2 linked regions of the Homo sapiens genome follow. The protein of the gene in region 2 interacts with the protein of the main gene of each other region in a pairwise test. Each region holds a gene or a part of one and is shown on either strand. Other genes may lie near its edges.

Region 1 (4,988 bases), on a different chromosome or scaffold from region 2:
TAAGTATGTTTTCTGTGACGACACCACCATTACGTATTTCCATAGAAGGAAAATAAAACCAGATTGATTACATCCAGTTTCTTCCAGTGCATTTTTCCCATGAGTCTGAACTTTTTAAAACCAAAGCAAACTTGTTATTTCTAAAGCAGCACTGCTGCAGTATTTCTAAATATAAACTGTTTATTTAGCATCTGAAGCAGGCTTGGGAAAAAGGGCCACAAACGTTCCTTATTTTATTTATGTATTTTTTTTGAGACGGAGTCTCGCTCTGTCACCCAGGCTGGAGTGCAGTGGCACGATCTTGGCGCACTGCAACCTCTGCTTCCTGGGTTCAGACGATTCTCCTGCCTCAGCCTCCCGAGTGGCTGGGACTACAGGCGCCCGCCACCATGCCCAGATAATTTTTTGTACTTTTAGGAGAGACAGGGTTTCACCATGTCAGCCAGGCTGGTTTTACACTCCTGACCTCAAATGATCCACCCGCCTTGGCCTCCCAAAGTGCTGGGATTACAGGCGTGAGCCACCGCGCCCGGCCAAAAGTTCCTCTCTTAAGCAAGCTGGGCACGAAGTAGCCGGCAACCAAAAGCAGCTAAGGGCTACAACTTTAAAAAATGGTTTATTTTTTTCTTTAACAAAATCGTACAGCTTTCTCAATCCCCAAATTAAAAAAACAGAAAACAGGAAGAAAGGGAAGAAGGCAAAGGCCACACGCACAGGCCGGCCCGGCCGCACGCGCCTGCTGGACGGCACTTCAGGGCACAACCCACACGCGTCTTTGGACTTGCAGACATTCCGCGAGGCTTCTGGCCTCTCGAAGGCAAAGCTTTTCAGCGATTTCATTAATATTTCATTACGCTGAGATGAGATGAAGGCAGATGCTACAGAAATATGTCAGTTAAAGCCACAGAAACAGAACAGCTTAAGAAGGGCTGGGCGCCCAGCTCGTCACGACACTTACAGCTCTGGCGTCATCAGAAGCCTCTATCATCTCCCTCTGCAAAGACGCAGTCTACACCCAGTGCGAGTCTCCTGAGCGGGGTTAGTGTTTGGGAGTGGGAGGCAGCTGCTAGTCAGAGTTGGGTCCTTAGGGCGCAGTGCTTCACGGAAACGCACAGACGTCTATGGCAGACGCTCTCAGACACGTGTGCAGAAGCGACGTGGCTTCTGTCTGGTAGGGGTTTGGACTGTTGGGAGGAGTATGAGGGACAAAGCAGGCCGCTGGCTCAGCATCAGCTTGTTGGAAAAGGGTCACAGGCAGGGGAGCGCCTGACTCCAGCGGTGTCCTTTCTGCCCTCACACTTCAGTGCTGCTTCCCATCAGTGACGGGGCTGACGAGAAACCGTGAGGCCCAGGTGACAAGCAGGCTCAGGACATGCGACACCGTCTTCGGGATGCTGCTTTCCGCTAAGCTGCTGTCTGGGAAAGTCAACCGTCTATGTCCCAAATCAATCAACTCAGTGACACAGGTACTATTATTTCTCACAAATGCCAATTAAATCCTTTAAGTTGAATAGAAATCTGGGTTGGATTAAGTGGGAAAACCCTTCCTTAGTTTACATTTTCTTTTTCTCAGGTGTTTTCATTGAGGCTACTCAGGAAACCGGTCAGGCTGCCCAGGACACCTGGAACCTGGGCTATGCCAGGCCTGTCTGCCACAGCCCTGCCTGCCCCGCTTCCACACAGGAAGAGAGGCTGAGGCGCTGTGGACGGCAGCAGCTGCAGTCCTCGGGATCCAAGGACCTTCTGATCACAGAGCACCCAGGATAAGCTGGACCCTTGGCCTGCGGGCTGACGTGCAGCGGCTGCCCTTGCTTAGCAGAGCGACTCACCCTCGGAGGCCACCCTGTGTGGCTCCTCCTCGTGGAAAGAGCTCGCACTTTTCAGCATCGCAGTTTTAACTCAGACCAAAGGGCAGACGTGGAGCATGCGGGGCCGGAACGAGTGGGGGAAATGAAGTCCTGAAAGCAGACCCCACTTCTGCCCGCTTCTGCTCAGCACCAGCGCGGTGGCGCAGTGGCCTGAGACACTGTGAGAAGCCGGTCAGGGCGAACGAGAGTCATCTGAACACGGAGGAAAGTGGCTGGCCTGACCCCACACACCTCCCACAGCGGAGCAACGGCATGCCGCTGCCTCCATACCTGCGGTTCACGCACACGTTGTGCATTTTCTGGTTAAAAGAAAAAAAAAGGCAGCTGGGGCCGGGTGCTGTGTGAGAGAGCCCAGCACCTACTGGCAGCTGGGTGGGCGACATCCAGAGCTGCACCAGCCCCCGTGGCTGCCACGTGTTGCAGAGCTAAGTGACTACATGCACTGGCCAGGCCTCAGAGGAGCCGTCCCTGTGCTCAAAGGAAGCAGAGGATTTGGGATTGGAGGCGCCAGGCAGCCAGTCCCCATGCCCAGGAAACCCACGTTTGTGGCATCAGCCGGAGAGTTCATCGGGAGTAGAGCCGTGCAGCGGCGCGGTTATCTGAAGCTCCCCACGTGGATGGAGAGAGAAGTTTCCGGGGCTCGGGGCCGGGCAGGCGTCTCTGCACTGGAGAGGATGTAGCTGCTCTGCTCATGGAGGGCTTCTTGGCTGCAGAGACACAGACACTGTCATTGACTCATGGATGCAGTGGGTGTCAGGGTGAGGGGTTCACGAAGACCCCAAAATACACTCCAATTTTATAGGCCACAAGGACGTGCATTTGCAATTGCACAGACAGATCTCAGCCACCTGCCAGAGGGCCCCATTTTGCCCTGCCACCAGCCCTGTGCCAGGCCAGCTGCCTTCCCCTGCTTTGCACTGGCAGCACGGCATGGTTCAGGCTCTGGGGCTTTCTCAATCTGCTCAGTGAAAATGCCTCACAGCTGAGAAACCTTCCTTTCCGTACTTTTTAAACGGAAGAATAACATCCGGAGTGCACACACACCGCTGCACGACTCGTCACAATCACGCACACCTGTGTGACATGATGCAGAGGCTGCCTCTGCCCCTTCAGTCTTGCCCGGAGAGACAGGCCACTTGGCATCCCACTCAAGAGACTGGCTTTCGCTGTGACCCCCCCGGCCCATGGCACCGTGCGGCAGGTGCTCTGCGGCCGGGTGCTTTGGCCCAGCCTGATGTGTGTGGCCCACCCACGCTGCACAGTCCCCGACAGAAAGCCTCCGCGGCCCACCCGCCATCCCACTGCTGAGCAGCCTTTCCTTCAATACGGCCAGAATCTGGCCATGGTGAATGAAGCTGCCTTGTAATTTTGGGGATATCCTGGTAGGCACGCGTCCATGTTTTTGAGGAGTAGAAGGCTGGGTACCGGGAAGTGCCCAGCAGATGCAGCAGGAGGTACTGTCCTGAGTTCCAAAGTGTCTGTGCCAATTCCACACCCACACACAGGGGATGAGAGCCCCAGTGACTCTGCGTCCTCAACACACGAGTCTTTCCCACTTTAGTGTTGCCAATAGGCATGTGGCACTGTCTCGGAGTAGCTTGAATTTACACCTCTTTTATCATGAGTGAATGGCTGAGCATATTTTTATATGCTGGCAAGCGATTTGCAGTTCCTTTTCTATGAACTGTTCATACCCTTTACCTACATTTTTATTGGATTGGTTGTCTTTTTCTTATTTGCAGATAATGTTTACAGCCATACCCTCTGACCTAGCAATTCCATTGCAGAAATCTGTCCTACAGATATATCCACATCTGTACTGCAAAATGGTGAATATACAAGGTTATTCACTGTGATGGTGACAGATTGGCGACAGCCTGGAAGTGTGTGAGGTGGGCATAAGTCACCTAAGCTGTGGTCTACCCATGCATCAGGACACCACGCTCCCACCATGAGACGGGGCAGCTGAGTACACACTGGTACATGAAAACAGCAAGGTTACCAAGAAAGTTCTGGTCAAAAGAGAAAGGAAAGCTTCTCTGCCCCTATACACAGGTCTCTGAAAGGACATGCAGGTGACGGTCACGCTGGCCCATCTAGGAGAGGCTGTGTACCTGGGGAGGGAGGTGCAGAGATTTCTCAGTGAACCTCTTTGGTGGCTTTTGAAAGCACGTGACACTATTAACTCCAAAAAAAAATGAAAAACAATATAGTAAGTGGTTACATCACGGTGTTCAGAAGACACCAGTGGTCTACTGTTGTGCAAACAGCACGTGTGAGGCTTAAGATGAGGTTTTCAGTGACAGCACCATGAATTTTTAAAATGTGCTATCTCAAACAGCACAGATGACAATGGAGCTCCCAGGGCCTGGGGAACTATTGGATGTCTCCAAATAACAGCCCTGGTGACAACTAAGGCTTTGACAGAGAGGATGCTTGGAGAAGTCTGATGAAGTCAGTGGCATCACATTTAAATGTGGAAACAGAGCCAGGCGCGGTGGCTCACGCCTGTAATCCCAGTACTTTGGGAGGCCAAGGCGGGCTGATCACAAGGTCAAGAGATTGAGACCATCCTGGCCAACATGGTGAAACCTCGTCTCTACTAAAAATACAAAAATTAGCTGGGCATAGTGGTGCACGCCTGTAGTACCAGCTACTTGGGAGACTGAGGCAGGAGAATCGCTTGAACCCGGGAGGCGGAGGTTGAAGTGGGTTGAGATCGTGCCACTGCACTCCAGCCTGGCGACAAGGTGGGACTCCGTCGCAAAAAAAAAAAAAAATTTGGAAAACAGTATTTTAGTGTCTATGTATTAGACACGTATAGAATTTTACGTGTGTGTGTGTGTGTGTGTGTGTGTGTGTGTCTGACCTTTAAACAGGAAAACCCCCGAAGCAGCCAGCGCTGCAGCCCCTCTCCCATATCCCAGGTCTCTGAGGGCACCAGGACCTGAGGGCTGCAGAGCTGCGAATGGGGGTGAGGCCAGGCACAGGTCCTTTGCTATCCTGGGGCTCCCGGGGCCCTTAGGGAGTCAGCAAAGGCCACGGGACAGTGCTGTCCGGAAAGCAGCCCAGACCCCGGAGAGCAGAGAGGAAGGGGCCCTGGCCCAGGGGCCGTGCTGC
Region 2 (7,806 bases):
AAGAGTTTGATAAAGGGACATTTGAATATGCACTCGCGTGAGAGTTCCAGCTATATGGTTTTTATGGTTGTGCCATCGGGACACATTCTGGATACAATTGTAACTACCTTGAGGGTGTGGGAGAGAGGCTCATTTTGTTCAGTGAATTCAATAAACATCTGTGACTAATTTCTTCACCATGCTGTGTAAATGATAAACTATTGTTGGGATTCCTCACTTTCCTCTGTTCCCACTTAGAGGTTTCCAATGAATAGAGCATAAGGATGGCTGCCGCCATGTTTACCATCTTTATTCTTATCTTGAACAACTGCCTTGAATTTCTGCTTCCTTTCTTGTGCTAATAAACTGTGCCAAAGGCATCTTGCTCTCTCCCCTCTGAAAAGCCCAGGCATCCCCTCCACATTCCTGACTCAGACCCCTTTAGCTTTAGTGAGTCAGGTCTTAAACAGAGAATTTAGTCCAAAGAATAATCAAAATATTATTTGTCTAATAATAACCATAGGCCCAAAAGGTTCACAGGTGAAAAAATATCTCAAAAATCTAACACCCAAAGCCTACAAGTAGTCACAGGCCCTAAAGCTCCCCAAATTTCACAGAGCCCTGACCCTCCTATCTCTTCTGTTTGTCGAATCTCTTGCAGTAAAATCCCATAGCTTGGAATCCAAACCAGATCTGCCTCATACTGATGCTCCCTCCCCTACCCCTTGCATAAATAGAATTTAAAAGGGAGTTTCCAGCATGACCTAGTGGAAAGAGTACTCTAAGCAGAAACAAAGACAGTCTCAGCTGTGCCACCAGTAGAGCTATGCTCTAATGGGTAAGTCATCTAATCTCTGTGAGCTTCAGTGAAGAGTAGTGTTAACATCCTTTTCAATTCTAGTGCCCTATGAATGCTACAAATGTATCTGAAAACCCAGAGATCTGAAATGAATGAGGATTTAAGATATCATGAAAAGTTTTTCAGATTAGGAGCCTAAACTCAGAGATTTGAATTCTAATGTTAGCTTAGCCAAGAACTAGCTTTATGACCTAGAAAGTTACCTAAAGGGAACCTATATTGCACAACAAGAATTAAGAAACCCATCCTGCATGTCTTCAGCAATATTGAGAGGGCCAATTAGATATAATGAATGTGAAAGCATTTTGTAAACCATAAAACAGTATCTAAACATACCTTGCTATCAATATTTATTGTCCTCATCAGTAGCAGTAATAGAGATTCTCAAACCCTAAGAAGCAATGGCTTAGTGTAAATTATTCAATCTCTCTAGTATTTCATTCTCTTCAATTGAGAAATAAAAAGATAAAATTATATAGTTCTAAATTCTTTCCAACTACAAACTTCTGACTCTCTATGAGTCAGAATGGAGGAACATAGCAGGAGATAAATACAAAAATATTTATGTCCTTTGAAAACACAGAACTGCAAAACATACCATGAAGGAACAAGACTAATATTACCAAGAGGTAGCACTAAGTTAGTTACTTTCAATTTATTTGATACTCTTATAAATTCTTTGAGTTGGAGACTACTATTTCCATTTTATTTTTAATCTTAATTTTGCAGAAGAGAAACTGAAGCTAAGAGAAATTAACTAGCTTCCCAAGGTCACCATAGCTAGGGAATGGTTATGTTAGGGATTGAACTTGGGCAGTTTGATTTCTGCTGTATCCCTAGACACTGTCCTCAACACTTCTACATAGCTTATAGGCATGGTTACTGCTCAGGTCTATGGAATTCCAAAACCAGCTGTCTCTGTGAGATTCCTTGATGCTTTCCATCTCATAATAGATTTAGAACATATCTGTTATTAGCTATGGATCTTCTGGACCAAATCCTCACCTCAAGGAGGCTCTCTGTACCCCAGTTGGTTCAAGAGTGTAGGCCTGGTACACCTCATAGCCAGTTAGTAACTTGGCCCAAGAACAGGCCACTGGGCCAAGTTCAACTGAACATACTGAAAATTGTGTGTGCCAGGAAACTAGGTCTCTTTGTTGACCAAGGCTTTTAAAGTACCAGATGTTTCATTTGTCTCCCAGAGAAGACACCCACCAAGACCCTCCATTTTGATGACTAGAACAAACCAAGGCCAGATCTTTATTTCAAAGGAAGAAAGACCTCTACAACCAAGAAAACTTTATGAAATATGAGCATTGTTTCTGGAAGTTCAACTCCCATAAGCTTTTCAAGTATATTAACTCTACCATAATATTATTTCCAAATCCACTAAAGAAAAATTCTATTAACCAAAAGTGTCTTCATCTGTGGTTTTTATTTGTGGTCTATTGGGTGCCTTAGTTTTTTTGGGGGGTGGGGTGGTTTGGGGGATAGAAAAGTCAGTATCTGTATTTTCAGAAACAGAAAGAATATAAAAAATATAAAAGGCTGGTTACAACATGAAAACAACATGGAAATTTCATGAAATGTTAATTCTTCTAGGAATAGATGTTCAGTGTCACAGTTGGATCAGCCTCTAGCTTCCCCTTCCCAAAAGCCTTGTCAGAGAGGACAGAGGAAAGATAGAGGAGCATACCTCAAGATAGCTTGCTCCTGTTACCTTTCCCGCTTGTCTGAAAGGCCTAAATCGGATTCACCTTTCAAGGTTGGCTTTATGGATGGTGTTATTTCATCCATATCCCCCAAAACTGTCTCCCATTTGTTCCAGGATGCCTGAATCCCCTTAAAAGAGAACAAAGACTTTCATTTCACAGTGAGAGATAAAAGGCTTAGAATGAAAATGTCTGGTTGATATAAGACCAAGACTAAAACAAATTCATACCACTCTGAAGTCAGGCAGTCAGTCAGCAAGAAAAAGGAAATTGACTGGTATCAGAGGTATTCACAGTCATTGGTAGAGGAAAAAGGTTGTAGAGTAAATAAGTGGCTCCAAAAAGGGTTGGAGGATGCCAGCTTATGGCTCCTGTCCTGGTCTGGTGAATAGAACTTATTTTGGGTGCCAGCCCCATCCTAGCTGTTCTTTGTCTTGATCTAAACAACCAGCCCCACCCAGCTGAATTTGAAATCGGACACTCCTATGCCAAAACACTTTCTATATGAGGAATCAGAACCCTTTGTTGAACAGATAAATGCCTTGTACTGGTGACCTTTAAGAGTGGAATGAGTTATAGGTATATACTTGTAATTCTGTCTCTATTTCTGATATAGCCTCACGACATTAGCCTGACTGATTAGCATGACATTTACTTAACGAAGAGGATCTAAAGGGTTTTACTTAGGTGTCTCTAGACACTTCTATAATCCTGTATCAGTTCACTAACTTACCTTTACACTTATTTTTTATAGACAAAATATCTATCCCAATCTCTAATGATTCACCTCACAATCTTGTATGTGCTAAGTAAAAATCCCCAGCTAATTGTAAATAGCGCTAAAATAGTGAAAGCAAGCACTAGGTACAAATTGTTGCTGTTCTAAACCCCATACACAAACTAACTCATTTATTCCTCAAAATAACTCTACAACAAGGTAGGTACAATTATAATCCACAACTGCATTTGCAGATGAGAAAATTAAGGCACAGAAAGATTGAGTAACTTGACTGAGTTCACACAGACAGCAAGTGGCAGGGCCACGACATAAGTTGGGCCTTCTGACTTGAGTCTTGCTCCTAGCCACTATATTACACCACAACCGAGCTACTCAGACAACTGGAAATCACTTAAATCGTTTCTTATAAGAAACAAAGAGGACTCATTCAATCATCCTGATTGATAATCAGTGACAGACTTGAGGGAGGAATTGTTTGCAGTGTTAATAATCACCTACTTGCAGATCTGAAAAAGAAAAACCTTTTCCTCAACAAAACTCAAAAACTGAGTTGGACAAAAAAATGTTTTTCTAGTTGGAGACAGAAAGGTCATTTAGTAGTGCCACTGAGATGCTTACCCACAGTTTGGTTCCTGCTTAAAACAGTTTTCCCTGCTGGGCGCGGTGGCTCACACCTGTAATCTTGACACTTTGGGAGGCTGTGCCGGGCAGATTACCTGAGGTCTGGAGTTCAAGATCAGCCTGGTCAACCTGGTGAAACCCCATCTCTACTAAAATTACAAAAAAATTTAGCCAGGCGTGGTGGTGGGCGCCTGTAATCCCAGCTACTCAGGTGGCCGAGGCAGGAGAATCACTTGAACCTGGGAGACAGAAGTTGCAGTGAGCTGAGATTGCACCAGTGCACTGCAACCTGGGCAACAGAGCGAGACTCCATCTCAAAAAAAAAAAATTTTCCCATATTTCCCAAAATAGAAATATTTTCAATAAATCATTGATTCCACTCTTAATCTGCTTACTTCCCATGCAAAAGAGTCAAGGTAATGTCTACTACAAGCAAGATAAAATCATTTCAGACACTACTTTCTAGTTACAGAGTATAGAAATTGTCTCTGGAGAACTATATTTTGATACACATGCTAAACAATAGGAGGTCACTAGGACTCATCTGTAAGACGGTGGAACTCAATTTATCTATTCCCAAATGACTAATGGCAATGCTCATATTTTTTGGACAATTGCTGTTAAGGGATCCAATTCTCCTTATGAATTAAAGAAACTCTATGTTACTTCCTGTCTAAAAGGATTAATGGTTTACTACTAGTTACCAGTTGATGTGGTACTTAAGTTTCCTCAGGGCTAATGACCTGGTGGGGCTTACAGTACTATTCCAGGCCAATCATTGCACAGTCATCTCTTTCAAGAAAGTTTCTAACCAATAAGCAGAAGCCTAACTTTCTGGCTGAAAGCTAAGTGTCCCATATATTCCTGGGTGACGCTGAAGCAGGTTACATTTCCTCAGAAGAAGGCTCCTTGGTGGTAAGTTGAACATTTCTGGGCAGGGTAAAAATCATACTTAATATTATGTCATAAAGTAGATTCTGAGGAGTAGGTGAGGGTGTCAAGGACTATGAAGAGAAGTGTTTTGTAAAAACTAAAACGATAATAGCTTCATTTATAATTTCCCCAGGAAAGGTTACTTGAGAAATGAAGTTGAGGGTTTTTTTAATTCAAATACACAGCTTTAATAACTGCATGAGAGAGACAAGTTTTTATTTATATTTATCTCATTTTTCTAGAACTTCCCTTGAAAAGCCAAATTTTAAGGTATCAATAAGGAAATATAATTCTAAAGCAAGTGTTTTAAGACAGGCCAGTACTATGAAATTGCGAAAATTATTGTGAAGTCTATTCACCTCACAGTCAAATATAAACCTCTCAATTATTGAAGACATTTCATTAAAATGAGTCAGTAGAGCATGATTATTTTACCTAAACATAGCAGAGGACTTTTTTAAGGTATATGACTTATTTCTTATAGATATATGACTTATTTCTATATTCATATTTTTTTAAGGTTTCATGTTAGTATTTGCAAAACAAACAAATGTATGAGCAAATGAAACATTTGGATCTTGTAAAAGATCTAAGAATTCACAGAGACATCATCTTGATGGGATGTATTTTTTAAATGCATATTCTAAAACATAATTTTTTACTTGTTGCATAGGTAACAAAATTTGGAATTTATAAGTTGAACATGTACAGATTTTTATAAACTAGCAAGAATATATTTTTTAGAAGTTTTGTTTTTCATTTTATATGTTGTATAGTATATATTCCTAACAATCAAAATACTTTGCAGTTTCAGCATTTAGTACTGTCAGTGAACTGTGTCTTAGGCTGAGAATATTCTCATCAGCTCTTACTGTATTCAATAAGTAAAGTTACATCTTTTCTAAAGTCACAGTGAACTCCAGTGCACTGAATTCAAGCAAATACTACAAACACAGGTAACATTTTAATGACTGCATTGGAAGTTCTGTTTGCTGGAACAGTTTTCCAGTTATTTATTATCAGATTTAATTACTCACATGACTAAGGTTCCTGGACAGATAAATTTTAGTGAAATGAGTTTAAAATTGTATGTCTTGTAAAATAAAACTGTTCCCTTATATCCCACCCTTACCTAAATATATTTGTATTACTTGGAACAAGTTTAATTTTCTTTTTCAATGACAGCTTTGAAGAACATCCTGAAGATTATATCGGAGACAATATATCAAGAATCTATTTATTGAATCATCTAGAACAAAAGCCAGGAGCTCCCTAATGGAAGCACATTAGTGTTTATTTTGATGAAGAAATATATAGATTTTTTAAAACAACCACAAAGTAGATAGCTCAGTAAAAAATCAATTTTGGAAGATGTCACTGAACAACTCTTCCAATGTATTTCTGGATTCAGTGCCCAGTAATACCAATCGCTTTCAAGTTAGTGTCATAAATGAGAACCATGAGAGCAGTGCAGCTGCAGATGACAATACTGACCCACCACATTATGAAGAAACCTCTTTTGGGGATGAAGCTCAGAAAAGACTCAGAATCAGCTTTAGGCCTGGGAATCAGGAGTGCTATGACAATTTCCTCCAAAGTGGAGAAACTGCTAAAACAGATGCCAGTTTTCACGCTTATGATTCTCACACAAACACATACTATCTACAAACTTTTGGCCACAACACCATGGATGCCGTTCCCAAGATAGAGTACTATCGTAACACCGGCAGCATCAGTGGGCCCAAGGTCAACCGACCCAGCCTGCTTGAGATTCACGAGCAACTCGCAAAGGTAAGCTTGAAGGACACAAGCAAGTCTCCTCCCTTATTCATAACTTCAGATAATTTCCTTCTCTTTCATTACACTATGAATGAATGTGAAACAGTCAAATGGAGAGGTCTATTCCAAACACTATCCATCTTACTTACAAAACTGTCCCTAGTTCCCAGAAAAGTGTTTCACAGATGCTTTTTCTTTGGATTTTTTTTTTTCTTGAGACAAAGTCTTGCTCTGTCACCCAGCCTGAAGTGTGGTGGACACTGCAGCTTTGAACTCCTGGGCTCAAACAATCCTCCCACCTCAACCTCCTGAGTAGCTGGGACTGCAGGCATGCACCACCACACCTGACTAACTTTTTTATTTTTTGTAGAGACAGGGTCTTGCTATGTTGCTCAAGCTGGTCTCGAACTCCTGACTTAAAGGGATCCTCCCACCTTGGCCTCCCAAAGAGATGGGATTGCAGGCATGAGCCACTGTGCCCAGCTCCACAAATGTTTTCTGACTTAGGATAGAGAACTAAAGAATTAACTCTAAATGTTAGGCAATATGTTGTACCTTGTATATGATTATAGTCCACTCAATTCACACTTGGTTAAACACGTCAAACTGAATACCAAGCTGGTTTCACGTCAGTATTAATGTCTCTATGTCAATCGTATAAAAAGCAAAACACTTGTGCTTGCTGTAGTTAATACTGTGGGTGACAGCCTTTAGTGTGTAGGGGTATTTTTTATATTCTTTAAAGAAAGGGCAGAGATTTATAAGATTCAGCATTTTATCCCTTCCTCTTTAAAACTTTGCCTGAGGCTCCTGAATGTGCTTAAGCATATAAAAATAACTAAATTAAAGTACAGAAGCAGCAGAAGTGACTAAACTTTTCATTATTTAAGAAATACAGCCAGGGTTCCCAAGTCTGTTAGAAGTGAGGCAGCACTTTTCCCAATCTTTTTTGAGACGAAGTATCGCTCTTGTTGCCCGGGCTGGAGTGCAATGGTGCGATCTCGGCTCACCGCAACCTCCACCTCCTGGGTTCAAGCGATTCTTCTGCCTCAGCCCCCTGAGTAGCTGGGATTACAGGCATGTGCCACCACCACACTCAGCTAATTTTTTTGTATTTTTAGTAAAGATGGGGTTTCTCCATGTTGGTCAGGCTGGTCTTGAACTCCCAACCTCAGGTGATCTGC

Evidence for each region. The genes of interacting proteins can lie anywhere in the genome.
Region 1: the proteins of SLC12A1 (region 2) and USP40 interact in a two-hybrid assay, tested with the Homo sapiens proteins (one study listed by BioGRID).

Annotation. Positions count from the first base shown.
Region 1 is NC_000002.12:233,474,929-233,479,916, forward strand, and holds the end of USP40 (ubiquitin carboxyl-terminal hydrolase 40), read right to left. Parts: intron 2,576-4,988; coding exon 2,464-2,575; 3' UTR 598-2,463; downstream 1-597. UniProt on the Homo sapiens protein: May be catalytically inactive.
Region 2 is NC_000015.10:48,201,506-48,209,311, forward strand, and holds the start of SLC12A1 (solute carrier family 12 member 1), read left to right. Parts: upstream 1-4,796; 5' UTR 4,797-4,825; intron 4,826-6,028; 5' UTR 6,029-6,214; coding exon 6,215-6,634; intron 6,635-7,806. Other genes in the region: CTXN2 (cortexin-2), read left to right, coding at 1-41. UniProt on the Homo sapiens protein: Renal sodium, potassium and chloride ion cotransporter that mediates the transepithelial NaCl reabsorption in the thick ascending limb and plays an essential role in the urinary concentration and volume regulation. Electrically silent transporter system.